Homo sapiens: one gene and its partners. The protein of the gene in region 1 interacts with the protein of each later gene in a pairwise test. Each region holds a gene or a part of one and is shown in the gene's direction. Other genes may lie near its edges.

Region 1 (3,652 bases):
AACATTAAGGGCTTTCTGTCATTGCTAGAGTGTGAGCTCCATACAGTTAGCTAACTATTCTGACACATAGTTGATAGTGTAAAGATGTTTGTAAAGTTAACAAAATCATCATCAATGTAGATGATTTCAGATTGACTTATGATATCTTGTGACAGCTAGACAGCATGAGCAACAAATTAAAACTGTGATTTTAGCCAACGTACTTGTGCAGTTTACAGTTCTGAAATGGAGTTAGACACTAGAACATAACTGTTTTATACTTCTGTAATATATCAGGAAAAGTTCTAATAAAGTATAACTCAAATATTGGCCAAGCTAGGACTAATTAGTAAATTTTAATATAAGGTGACTTTACAGAAAAACCCAAGAAGACCTTAAACATTTTAATAGACAACAGTTTATTTACAGTCCAATAGCCATTCAGCAGTTTTTAAAGTTATGCTTCCGCTATTGCTTTTTGCCATACTAGCATTTTAGGACATCATGTTTAATATCATGAAAATAGAAAAATGAGACTTTTCTTTTACAGCTCATGAAGCAGTCAAAGACTGTGGATGTACTGTCTAGAAAGTTAGCAACAAAAAAGAAGGCTATTTCTACAAAAGTTATGAATAGTGCTGTGATGAGGAAAACTGCCAGTTCTTGCCCAGCTAGCCTGACCTGTGACTGCTATGCAACAGATAAAGTTTGTAGTATTTGCCTTTCAAGGTAATGTGTTTTGATGGTGTTATAAAATCACCAGCATGCTGCCATTAGAAATTGCATTGACTTGGGTGGATAATTTTGTGAGTGCAAGGGATCAGTTCAGATCAGTGAACTGCAATGGGCCTTGATGCAGAGCAGTAGTATGTTGAAGAGCAAATGATAACAGTTTTCATATATTATTTATTTAATATGGATATACTCTGGAAAACACATTTGCTCTTATATGCAAATAAGTGGGACGGGGTGGCTTTTAGAAGCTTAGAATCACACATTTTGATTGCTGATGTAGTCTTTTCTGTTTTCTCTTTTTATTCCCGCTTATGTGGAGTAACCAGAACCAAATAGTAGAGCTCCTCTTTTACTCCCACCTCCAACTCTTTGACTCATAAATTTCTTCCTTTCCTTCAAGGCTTGGCTTTCATAAAGCCTTTCTTGATTAACTCAAATATATAAGTGTATCTGTGATCAATTACTCCAAACAAATGAATTTTTATACCTGTGAATTGCTATTGGGTTCTATTTTTTCTATTATGGCTCTTATTATCCACTACTGCTTTTTATTCTTGGAGGTTATTTTAAACCTTTCTGGAGTAAGTCCGGGGAACTAGTAGAGGGGGTAAAAAACAGAAGAAGAAAAATCTAGGATTTTTATCACACTAGATTATCATTTACTTTATAGTAACACTTATTATATAGGTATCAAGGCAAAATTTACTGTGAACTAAATTGATGAATGTTATTTTTTAGACTTACATAGTTCAACTTTAACATAACTAGAGAAATCTTATTTCATCATAAGGCGTCAGCAGGTTGCCCCTAGGGCAGGTACACCAGGATTCAGAGCACCAGAGGTCTTGACAAAGTGCCCCAATCAAACTACAGGTATGTTGTACTGGAAATACAGAACCTAGTTAAAATGGATTGTTCCAGACGTATTTTATTTTATGATCTTTGTCTATTTATAACTAATATTTGAGTTCTTCTGCTTTTAATTATGTAAGCAGTTCTTGCAGTGTGGCATTCCTATTTTTGAGCTAATGCTATTCTTTATGAAAGTTTTTAATCCTAATGTTGCCTCTCTTTTTTTGTTTAAACAGTTTATTCCATAGATTACATTTTGCGTATTTATTTACAAGATGATCTTACCATCTTGTAAATAAATACGCAAAATGTAATCTGTGGAATTTTGCTGACATCACCTTTGTGGGGGAAAAAATTATGTTTAATAGTTTTTGCCAGCCAAAGACTTAAAGCATTTTATTTGCTTGCTTAATACCTCAAAAGTTTCCTGTGATGTAGATATATTTGTGTTTGATTAAAATTACTTTTGTTATTATATAAACAATATAATAGCAGTTAGAAGGTTTTGAAAAAGAAAAATGTCTTCCGTAATCTAAAAACTTACCATGGAGCTGGAATCCAGGAAACATCTTGAATGAATAGATGAATCCTGCTATTCACTTGGATTATGGGCTTTGAAGAAATGTATTCATTCATTGAATGTCTGTTCTTGCTTGCTAATGATAACAAATAAATAAATGAGACCATCTGTTCACACTCTAGTCAGGACACCATCAAATAATTATAAAATAACCTGTTGAGTATGGTAATAAAACTTATTCAGGGTATTTAAGGAGTATCTAACTATCCTAACCCAAAGAGATTATGAAAGGCAATTCATGAAAGAAATGACCTCTTAGAATGTAAATTGGGCTGAGAAGTTAGCATAGAGGCATGAGCCAAGGAACTCAAGAAACAGCATACAGGAAACTAAAAAAGTTTCATTTTGGCCAGACGCGGTGGCTCATGCCTGTAATCCCAGCACTTTCGGAGGCTGAGATGGGCGGATCACCTGAGATCAGGAGTTTGAAACCAGCCTGACCAACATGGTGAAACCCCATCTCTACTAAAAATACAAAAATCAGCTGGGTGTGGTGGTGCGCACCTGTAATCCCAGCTACTCAGGAGGCTGAGGCAAGAGAATCACTTGAACGCAGGAGGCGGAAGTTGCAGTGAGCCAAGATCGCACCATTGCCCTCCAACCTGGGCGACAGCAAGACTTCATCTCAAAAAAAAAAGTCCAATTTTGCTAGAATATTAAGATGCAAGTTGAGGAATGGTGAGAGATAAACCTGGAATGAGGTAGACAAGGTCAGACCACAGTTGTTACAGTTTGGACTATATACTGTAGATATTGGAAAGTTAAGTGAAAAAAGTGACAATGGTATATCCTAGATGGATCATTCTGGCAGGCGTGCAAACAGATTAGCTTTTGGAGAGTGGTGGCATGAATTTGTCCGGGTGAGAGGATGAAAATGTGAATGAGGGTATTGGTAATAGGAATGAAAAGAAAAGTGAAGGGTTAGAAAGGCAGAGCTTGGTGGATAATTGGATGTAGAATTAGGGTGTGGTATGGTGAGGGAAAAAGGCATTCAGGATGTTTACCAGATTCCTAGCTTGGGAGACTTGGATGTGTACCAGTAACCAAGGTGGAGAGTAAAGGAGAAGTAACTGGTTTATAGGGGAAGGTAAGGTTAGTTTGGGGTATAATTGGTTTGAGGTATTTGTGGGACATCCAAATAGAGATTTCCAGCAGAATCAAAGTTAAGTCTGATGCTCAGCGAAGGAGCTGGGCTAGAAATACAGATGAATGTCATCATTATATAAATGACAGTTGAAGCCATGAAGTGGATGGACCAATCAGGGAGAGTATACAGAGGGAGAAGTTAAAACTCTGAGGAATATCCGTCAGCACTTAAGGCTTGGAGAAAACATTGAAGGAGCAGGCAGAGGTACCAAAGGAGCTAAGAAAGGCAAGTAGGGCCGGGCACAGTGGCTCATGCCTATAATACCAGCACTTTGGGAGGCCAAGGCAGGCAGATCACTAGGTCAGGAGTTCGAGATCAGCCTGGCCAATATGGCGAAATCCCGTCTCTACTAAAAAGTA
Region 2 (3,752 bases), on another chromosome or scaffold:
AAACCAGCTATACTTAAAAGACATATACAGAACATTCCACCCAGCAAGAGCAGAATACACATTCTTCTCTAAAGCACATGAGGTATTCACCAGACTGTATGCCACAATTCAAGTTTCATAATATTTTACAAGATAGATATCATACAAAGTATCTTCTCGGACCACACAGATGAAGTTATAAATTAATAACAGAAGGAAAACTGGAAAAGTCACAAATATCTGAAAGTTAAACAACACTCTTAACAACTGGGTCAAAGAAGAAATCAAGGTCAGGCACGGTGGCTCACACCTGTAATCCCAGCACTTTGGGAGGCCAAGGCGGGTGGATCACCTGAGGTCGGGAGTTCGACACCAGCCTGACCAACACGGAGAAACCACGTCTCCATATCTCTAAATATCAAATTAGCCCGGTGTGGTGGCGCATGCCTGTAATCCCAGCTACTTTAGAGACGGAGGCAGGAGAACCGCTTGAACCCAGGAGGCGGAGGTTGCGGTGAGCCGAGATCACACCATTGCACTCCAGCCTGGGCAACAAGAGCGAAACTCCATCTCAAAAAAAAGAAAAAAAAAGAAGAAGAAATCAAAAGGGAAATTAGAAAATACTTAGAAATGAATGAAAATAACACAACATACAAAAACTTATGAGCTGTAGTGAAAACAGTGATCAAAGTGAAATGTATAGTTGTAAATAACTACATTAAAAAGAGGGAAAGGCTGGGAGCAGTGGCTCACACATGTAATCCCAGCACTTTGGGAGGCTGAGGAGGGTGGATCACTTTAACTCCAGAGTTCAAGACCATCAAGTTTTACACTTACAAATGATTAAAGTAATAAACATTACGCATGTTTTACCTCAATAAAAAGCCCCTCACCACCACCAAAAACGAAAAGAATGGTCAAAAACCAGTAAACTGGATTGGCAAGGAAAAGAACTCTAGAAGGATCCTCAAGTTTTCCGGTCTGGATAGGAGATGAGATGAACTTGAGATCATTAAAAGGTACTTTCACATCAGGACAGCTGGAGATCTCGTCCATGTAGCTGCCTGGGTTGTGAATGGTCAGCATGAAGTAGGTAACGGAAGCCATGGGAGTGCAAGAGTTTGCCCTAGGAAGAACTCCAAGGCAAGAACCCTGAAAAACACATCCAAAAGTGAGGGGAGAGCTTTCTGCTCTTCGGGCTCCCGCGCGACGAGTCTACACCCCTAGGCTAAAAAGACTTACCAAAGTTTAAGTGCAGAGGAGCCCTTCAGGCCCAAGGAGGCAGCGGACCGTCTAGGCCCAGCTACAGAAGAGCCGCTGAGACGGGGGTCCCGAGCAGCGGGTCCCTGCGAGGCGCACAGGGCCTGAGCCACAGACGCTTACGAGCTAAGGCACCTCGGGGTAGTAGGCAGTGAAGCTAGTGCCCAGAGTACGGTGCCCTCCGTCTGCGCCCCGCCCACAACGCAGAAATTCCCTCTCGGGGCCCCTGTTGTCCTCCGAGCCTTCCGATTGGCGGAGAGGACCATGGGACCTGGAAGTTGTCTTTGTCCGGCCAGGGCTGCCCTTCCGGTTCCGTTGGGTCCCCCTTTGGCTCGGGTTCCTTGCCCCTCCCCCTTCCCGGAGCCCCGAGGGGCCGGAGCTCCTGGCGGTGCCGGATCCTGACGGCGGCCTTCCCCCGGGTCTGTAAGTGCGGAGACGGCCGGAGCGGCGGGCTGGGGTGCGGGGTGTCTCAAAATGGAACCCCCCTGGGGCCCTGGATCAACCGGGACCTGCACTGGGATGGGAGCCGAGAGGCTGGCCTAGGCCCCTGGGGACTTGAGGAGCCCTTGGCCCGGCCCACGCTGCGCCCCGCCCCTTTCCCTTCCCTGTGACTGGAGTGGGGAGCCTGAGGATGCCCCTGGGACCGCCTCATAGGACCCCAGCTGAGGGCCCAGCAGTTGGCTTGGGGGCCTGACTCTGGCATCTTATAAGAAGTGCCAGAGGTGAGGCCCTAAGAAAACGAGCCTCGGGAGCCAGCCCAAGACCAGGCATTCAGTGCCAGTCTTTGAGAACCACTGTGAGTGCTAGGTTACCCTTTTGCTGGGGTTTTCCCCTATTTGGCCACTGGTCGCAGCACCTTTTATATTACTGGCGCTATACCAGACACTGGAGATTGGCAAGATATTGTTCCAGTTTTCGGGATTAAGTTTGGGAGCCAGATCTGAACAAATAAGTACTCCTATGTGTATATATATGTATGTATGTATCAGTCACATATGTGTTAATTGCTCAAGGGGCCGTTGCTGAGAAGGCTTTAGAAAGAAAGTGATGTCTGAATTGTACTTGGAGAGAGTAAAGTGTTGAAGAGTTTTTCAGGGAAGACAGTTGCAATACTGTGGAGAAATGACTGAGCATAACTTGTGTGGGAAGAGGAGGAAATGGGGGGACTCCTATGCACAGAATGGATATGAGACTGGGAAAGTCGACCGAGGTCCAGATGGTGAATGGTGTAATCCTAAAGGAGATGGGTAGTTTTTTGAAGAGTTCGGAACAGAATATTGATATGGTCAGATTTGCACTGCAGGAAATCATTTTGTTCTGTAGAAAGCCCATAGAGAAGGGACTTTCTATTAACTGCATTTAGACATTTAGCTAAAAGTTAGGAACGCTTATCGGAGATTCTTTTGAAGGGGTAATGGGATCAGCCTAGTGAGAGGCAAAAAATTCCTGAAATAAGTTATAATGGTGTCATTGGTAAGGAGACAAATATACTGGAGATGATTATGTCAAGACTCCATAATTAACTGAATGCTGAAGAAGTGTGAGGGACCAAATCTAATTCTTAGGTTTTAGACCTCTGAGCTGAAGGATGGTAATGCCATTATCAGAAATAAAGCCATAAGCTTAGTGTAGATTATGAATTCATTTTTTGGACATGTTGAATTAAAGGTCTAATGAGACAGACACATAGAGCTGTCCAGCATGGAGTTGGAAATGCAAATCTTTAGCTCAGCCTAAACATTGTAGCTAGAGGTAAAAGTTTGAGTTATCAGCATAGAAGTGGAAACCATGGCAATAGCTGGCATCAGGAAGAGAATTTTGAAAAATAAGGAAATTTGGGGGGGGAGGGTAATGCTTGCATTTATGAAGCAGAAAGAGGAATTGGAGCTAGTAGTAGTCAGCAGTAGGCAATAAAGTGTAGGAGTGCAGGGTTACAGCAAGCAAGAAGACCCAGAAATCAAGAGAAGGGAATTTCGAGGAGAGACCACTGGATCAATTCATGCAGAGCATCTGGAGACTTGGGGGAGGGGAGAGTATTGCATTTCTTTATGAAGAGGTCATTAGTGACCTTTTAAAAAGCAATTTAGTACAGTGATGAGGTGATACTCTATGAAATATTAGGTACCTCAGCTGGTTTGGTGTTAAATGGGAATAAGGATAGGACACATTTAAAGCATTTCACAAAGAAAATTGACAGGCTTTATTTGTATACCTAACACATGCTTATAGGGTACATACCAGACACTGTTCTAAGCTCTTTAAAAAATTAAATCATTTATTTTCCATAACAACCCTATGAAATAAATTACTATTGATAGATGGGAATATTGAAGCAGAGTGGTTTGAGTTTACACAGAAAGTAGTTGAGCAGGGTTTTGATCCTAGGAAATACGGCTCCAGAGTCCATGGTTTTACCCACTGCTCTATGCAGTGACTGAATATAGGAGCCAAAGGAGTGGGAAACATTTAAGCAAAGAGAGGCTCATTGATAAGAATGGAGAGGCTTGGAAAGA
Region 3 (3,652 bases), on another chromosome or scaffold:
AGCCCTGCTGAGTTCCTGTTCTCCACAGGCGAAAAGCAGATGCGCTTCAGCCTCTCAGACCTCCCCTATGATGTGAACTCGGGTGGCTATGAAAAGGATGTGGAGTTGGTGGCACACCACAGCCTAGAGCCTGGCTTTGGAAGTTCCCTGGCCTTTGTGGGTGCAGAGCATCTGCGTCCCCTCCGCCTTCCACCCACCAATTGCATCTCAGAACTCACGCCTGTCATCAGCTCTGTCTACACCCAGATGCAGCCCCTCCCTGGTCGACTGGAGCTTCCAGGATCCCGAGAAGCAGGTGAGGGACCTGAGGACCTGGCTGATGGAGGTCCCCTCCTCTACCGGCCCCGAGGCCCCCTGACTGACCCTGGGGCATCCCCCAGCAATGGCTGCCAGGACTCCACAGACACAGAAAGCAACCACGAAGATCGGGTTGCGGGGGTGGTATCCCTCCCTCAGGGTCCCCCACCCCAGCCACCTCCCACCATTGTGGTGGGCCGGCACAGTCCTGCCTACGCCAAAGAGGACCCCAAGCCACAGGAGGGGTTATTGCGGGGCACCCCAGGCCCCTCCAAGGAAGTGCTTCGGGTGGTGGGCGAGAGTGGTGAGCCTGTGAAGGCCTTCAAGTGTGAGCACTGCCGTATCCTCTTCCTGGACCACGTCATGTTCACTATCCACATGGGCTGCCATGGCTTCAGAGACCCTTTTGAGTGCAACATCTGTGGTTATCACAGCCAGGACCGGTACGAATTCTCTTCCCACATTGTCCGGGGGGAGCATAAGGTGGGCTAGCAACCTCTCCCTCTCTCCTCAGTCCACCACTCCACTGCCCTGACTACAGGCATTGATCCCTGTCCCCACCATTTCCCAAGGAGTTTTGCTTTGTAGCCCTCACTACTGGCCACCTGACCTCACACCTGACCCTGACCCCTCCTCACCTATTCTCTTCCTCTATCCTGACCGATGTAAGCATTGTGATGAAACAGATCTTTTGCTTATGTTTTTCCTTTTTATCTTCTCTCATCCCAGCATACTGAGTTATTTATTAATTAGTTGATTTATTTTTGCCTTTTTAAATTTTAACTTATATCAGTCACTTGCCACTCCCCCACCCTCCTGTCCACAACTCCTTTCCACTTTAGGCCAATTTTTCTCTCTTAGATCTTCCAGCAGCCCCAGGGGTAGGAAGCTCCTCTTAGTACTAAGAGACTTCAAGCTTCTTGCTTTAAGTCCTCACCCTTTACATTATCTAATTCTTCAGTTTTGATGCTGATACCTGCCCCCGGCCCTACCTTAGCTCTGTGGCATTATATCTCCTCTCTGGGACTCTTCAACCTGGTACTCCATACCTCTTGTGCCCTCTCACTTTAGGCAGCTTGCACTATTCTTGAATGAATGAAGAATTATTTCCTCATTTGGAAGTAGGAGGGACTGAAGAAATTCTCCCCAGGCACTGTGGGACTGAGAGTCCTATTCCCCTAGTAATAGGTCATATTCCCCTAGTAATATGAGTTCTCAAAGCCTACATTCAGGATCTCCCTCTAGGATGTGATAGATCTGGTCCCTCTCCTTGAACTACCCCTCCACACGCTCTAGTCCCTTCAACCTACCGGTCTATTAAGTGGTGGCTTTTCTCTCCTTGGAGTGCCCCAATTTTATATTCTCAGGGGCCAAGGCTAGGTCTGCAACCCTCTGTCTCTGACAGATTGGGAGCCACAGGTGCCTAATTGGGAACCAGGGCATGGGAAAGGAGTGGGTCAAAATTCTTCTCTTTCTCCTCCACCTCTCAAACTTCTTCACTATAGTGACCTTCCTAGGCTCTCAGGGGCTCCTTCAGTCCCCATCCTATGAGAAACTAGTGGGTTGCTGCCTGATGACAAGGGGTTGTTTCAGCCCCTCAGTCATGCTGCCTTCTGCTGCTCCCTCCCAGCAGGATTCACCCTCTCATTCCCGGGCTCCTGGGCCCTGTTCTTAGGATCAGTGGCAGGGAGAAACGGGTATCTCTTTTCTCTCTTCTAATTTTCAGTATAACCAAAAATTATCCCAGCATGAGCACGGGCACGTGCCCTTCACCCCATTCCACCCTTGTTCCAGCAAGACTGGGATGGGTACAACTGAACTGGGGTCTTCCTTTACTACCCCCTTCTACACTCAGCTCCCAGACACAGGGTAGGAGGGGGGACTGCTGGCTACTGCAGAGACCCTTGGCTATTTGAGTAACCTAGGATTAGTGAGAAGGGGCAGAAGGAGATACAACTCCACTGCAAGTGGAGGTTTCTTTCTACAAGAGTTTTCTGCCCAAGGCCACAGCCATCCCACTCTCTGCTTCCTTGAGATTCAAACCAAAGGCTGTTTTTCTATGTTTAAAGAAAAAAAAAAGTAAAAACCAAACACAACACCTCACAAGTTGTAACTCTTGGTCCTTCTCTCTCTCCTTTTCTCTTCCCTTCCTTCCCCTTCCATCTTTCTTTCCACATGTCCTTTCCTTATTGGCTCTTTTACCTCCTACTTTTCTCACTCCCTATCAGGGATATTTTGGGGGGGGATGGTAAAGGGTGGGCTAAGGAACAGACCCTGGGATTAGGGCCTTAAGGGCTCTGAGAGGAGTCTACCTTGCCTTCTTATGGGAAGGGAGACCCTAAAAAACTTTCTCCTCTTTGTCCTCCTTTTTCTCCCCCACTCTGAGGTTTCCCCAAGAGAACCAGATTGGCAGGGAGAAGCATTGTGGGGCAATTGTTCCTCCTTGACAATGTAGCAATAAATAGATGCTGCCAAGGGCAGAAAATGGGGAGGTTAGCTCAGAGCAGAGTAGTCTCTAGAGAAAGGAAGAATCCTCAACGGCACCCTGGGGTGCTAGCTCCTTTTTAGAATGTCAGCAGAGCTGAGATTAATATCTGGGCTTTTCCTGAACTATTCTGGTTATTGAGCCCTTCCTGTTAGACCTACCGCCTCCCACCTCTTCTGTGTCTGCTGTGTATTTGGTGACACTTCATAAGGACTAGTCCCTTCTGGGGTATCAGAGCCTTAGGGTGCCCCCATCCCCTTCCCCAGTCAACTGTGGCACCTGTAACCTCCCGGAACATGAAGGACTATGCTCTGAGGCTATACTCTGTGCCCATGAGAGCAGAGACTGGAAGGGCAAGACCAGGTGCTAAGGAGGGGAGAGGGGGCATCCTGTCTCTCTCCAGACCATCACTGCACTTTAACCAGGGTCTTAGGTACAAAATCCTACTTTTCAGAGCCTTCCAGCTCTGGAACCTCAAACATCCTCATGCTCTCTCCCAGCTCCTTTTGCATAAAAAAAAAAGTAAAGAAAAAGAAAAAAAAATACACACACACTGAAACCCACATGGAGAAAAGAGGTGTTTCCTTTTATATTGCTATTCAAAATCAATACCACCAACAAAATATTTCTAAGTAGACACTTTTCCAGACCTTTGTTTTTTTGTGTCAGTGTCCAAGCTGCAGATAGGATTTTGTAATACTTCTGGCAGCTTCTTTCCTTGTGTACATAATATATATATATACATATATATATATATTTTTAATCAGAAGTTATGAAGAACAAAAAGAAAAAATAAACACAGAAGCAAGTGCAATACCACCTCTCTTCTCCCTCTCTCCTAGGGTTTCCTTTGTAGCCTATGTTTGGTGT

What was found.
Region 2: the proteins of CDC7 (region 1) and ZBTB26 interact in binary tests that used the Homo sapiens proteins (3 or more experiments, as listed by UniProt).
Region 3: the proteins of CDC7 (region 1) and IKZF4 interact in binary tests that used the Homo sapiens proteins (3 or more experiments, as listed by UniProt).

The regions. Positions count from the first base shown.
Region 1 is NC_000001.11:91,514,290-91,517,941, forward strand, and holds part of CDC7 (cell division cycle 7-related protein kinase), read left to right. Parts: intron 1-529; coding exon 530-708; intron 709-1,452; coding exon of another isoform or gene 1,453-1,462; exon of another isoform or gene 1,463-1,504; coding exon 1,505-1,587; intron 1,588-3,652. UniProt on the Homo sapiens protein: Kinase involved in initiation of DNA replication. Phosphorylates critical substrates that regulate the G1/S phase transition and initiation of DNA replication, such as MCM proteins and CLASPIN.
Region 2 is NC_000009.12:122,929,347-122,933,098, reverse strand, and holds the start of ZBTB26 (zinc finger and BTB domain-containing protein 26), read left to right. Parts: upstream 1-1,586; 5' UTR 1,587-1,662; intron 1,663-1,833; exon of another isoform or gene 1,834-2,035; intron 2,036-3,752. UniProt on the Homo sapiens protein: May be involved in transcriptional regulation.
Region 3 is NC_000012.12:56,034,543-56,038,194, forward strand, and holds part of IKZF4 (zinc finger protein Eos), read left to right. Parts: intron 1-28; coding exon 29-789; 3' UTR 790-3,652. UniProt on the Homo sapiens protein: DNA-binding protein that binds to the 5'GGGAATRCC-3' Ikaros-binding sequence. Transcriptional repressor. Interacts with SPI1 and MITF to repress transcription of the CTSK and ACP5 promoters via recruitment of corepressors SIN3A and CTBP2.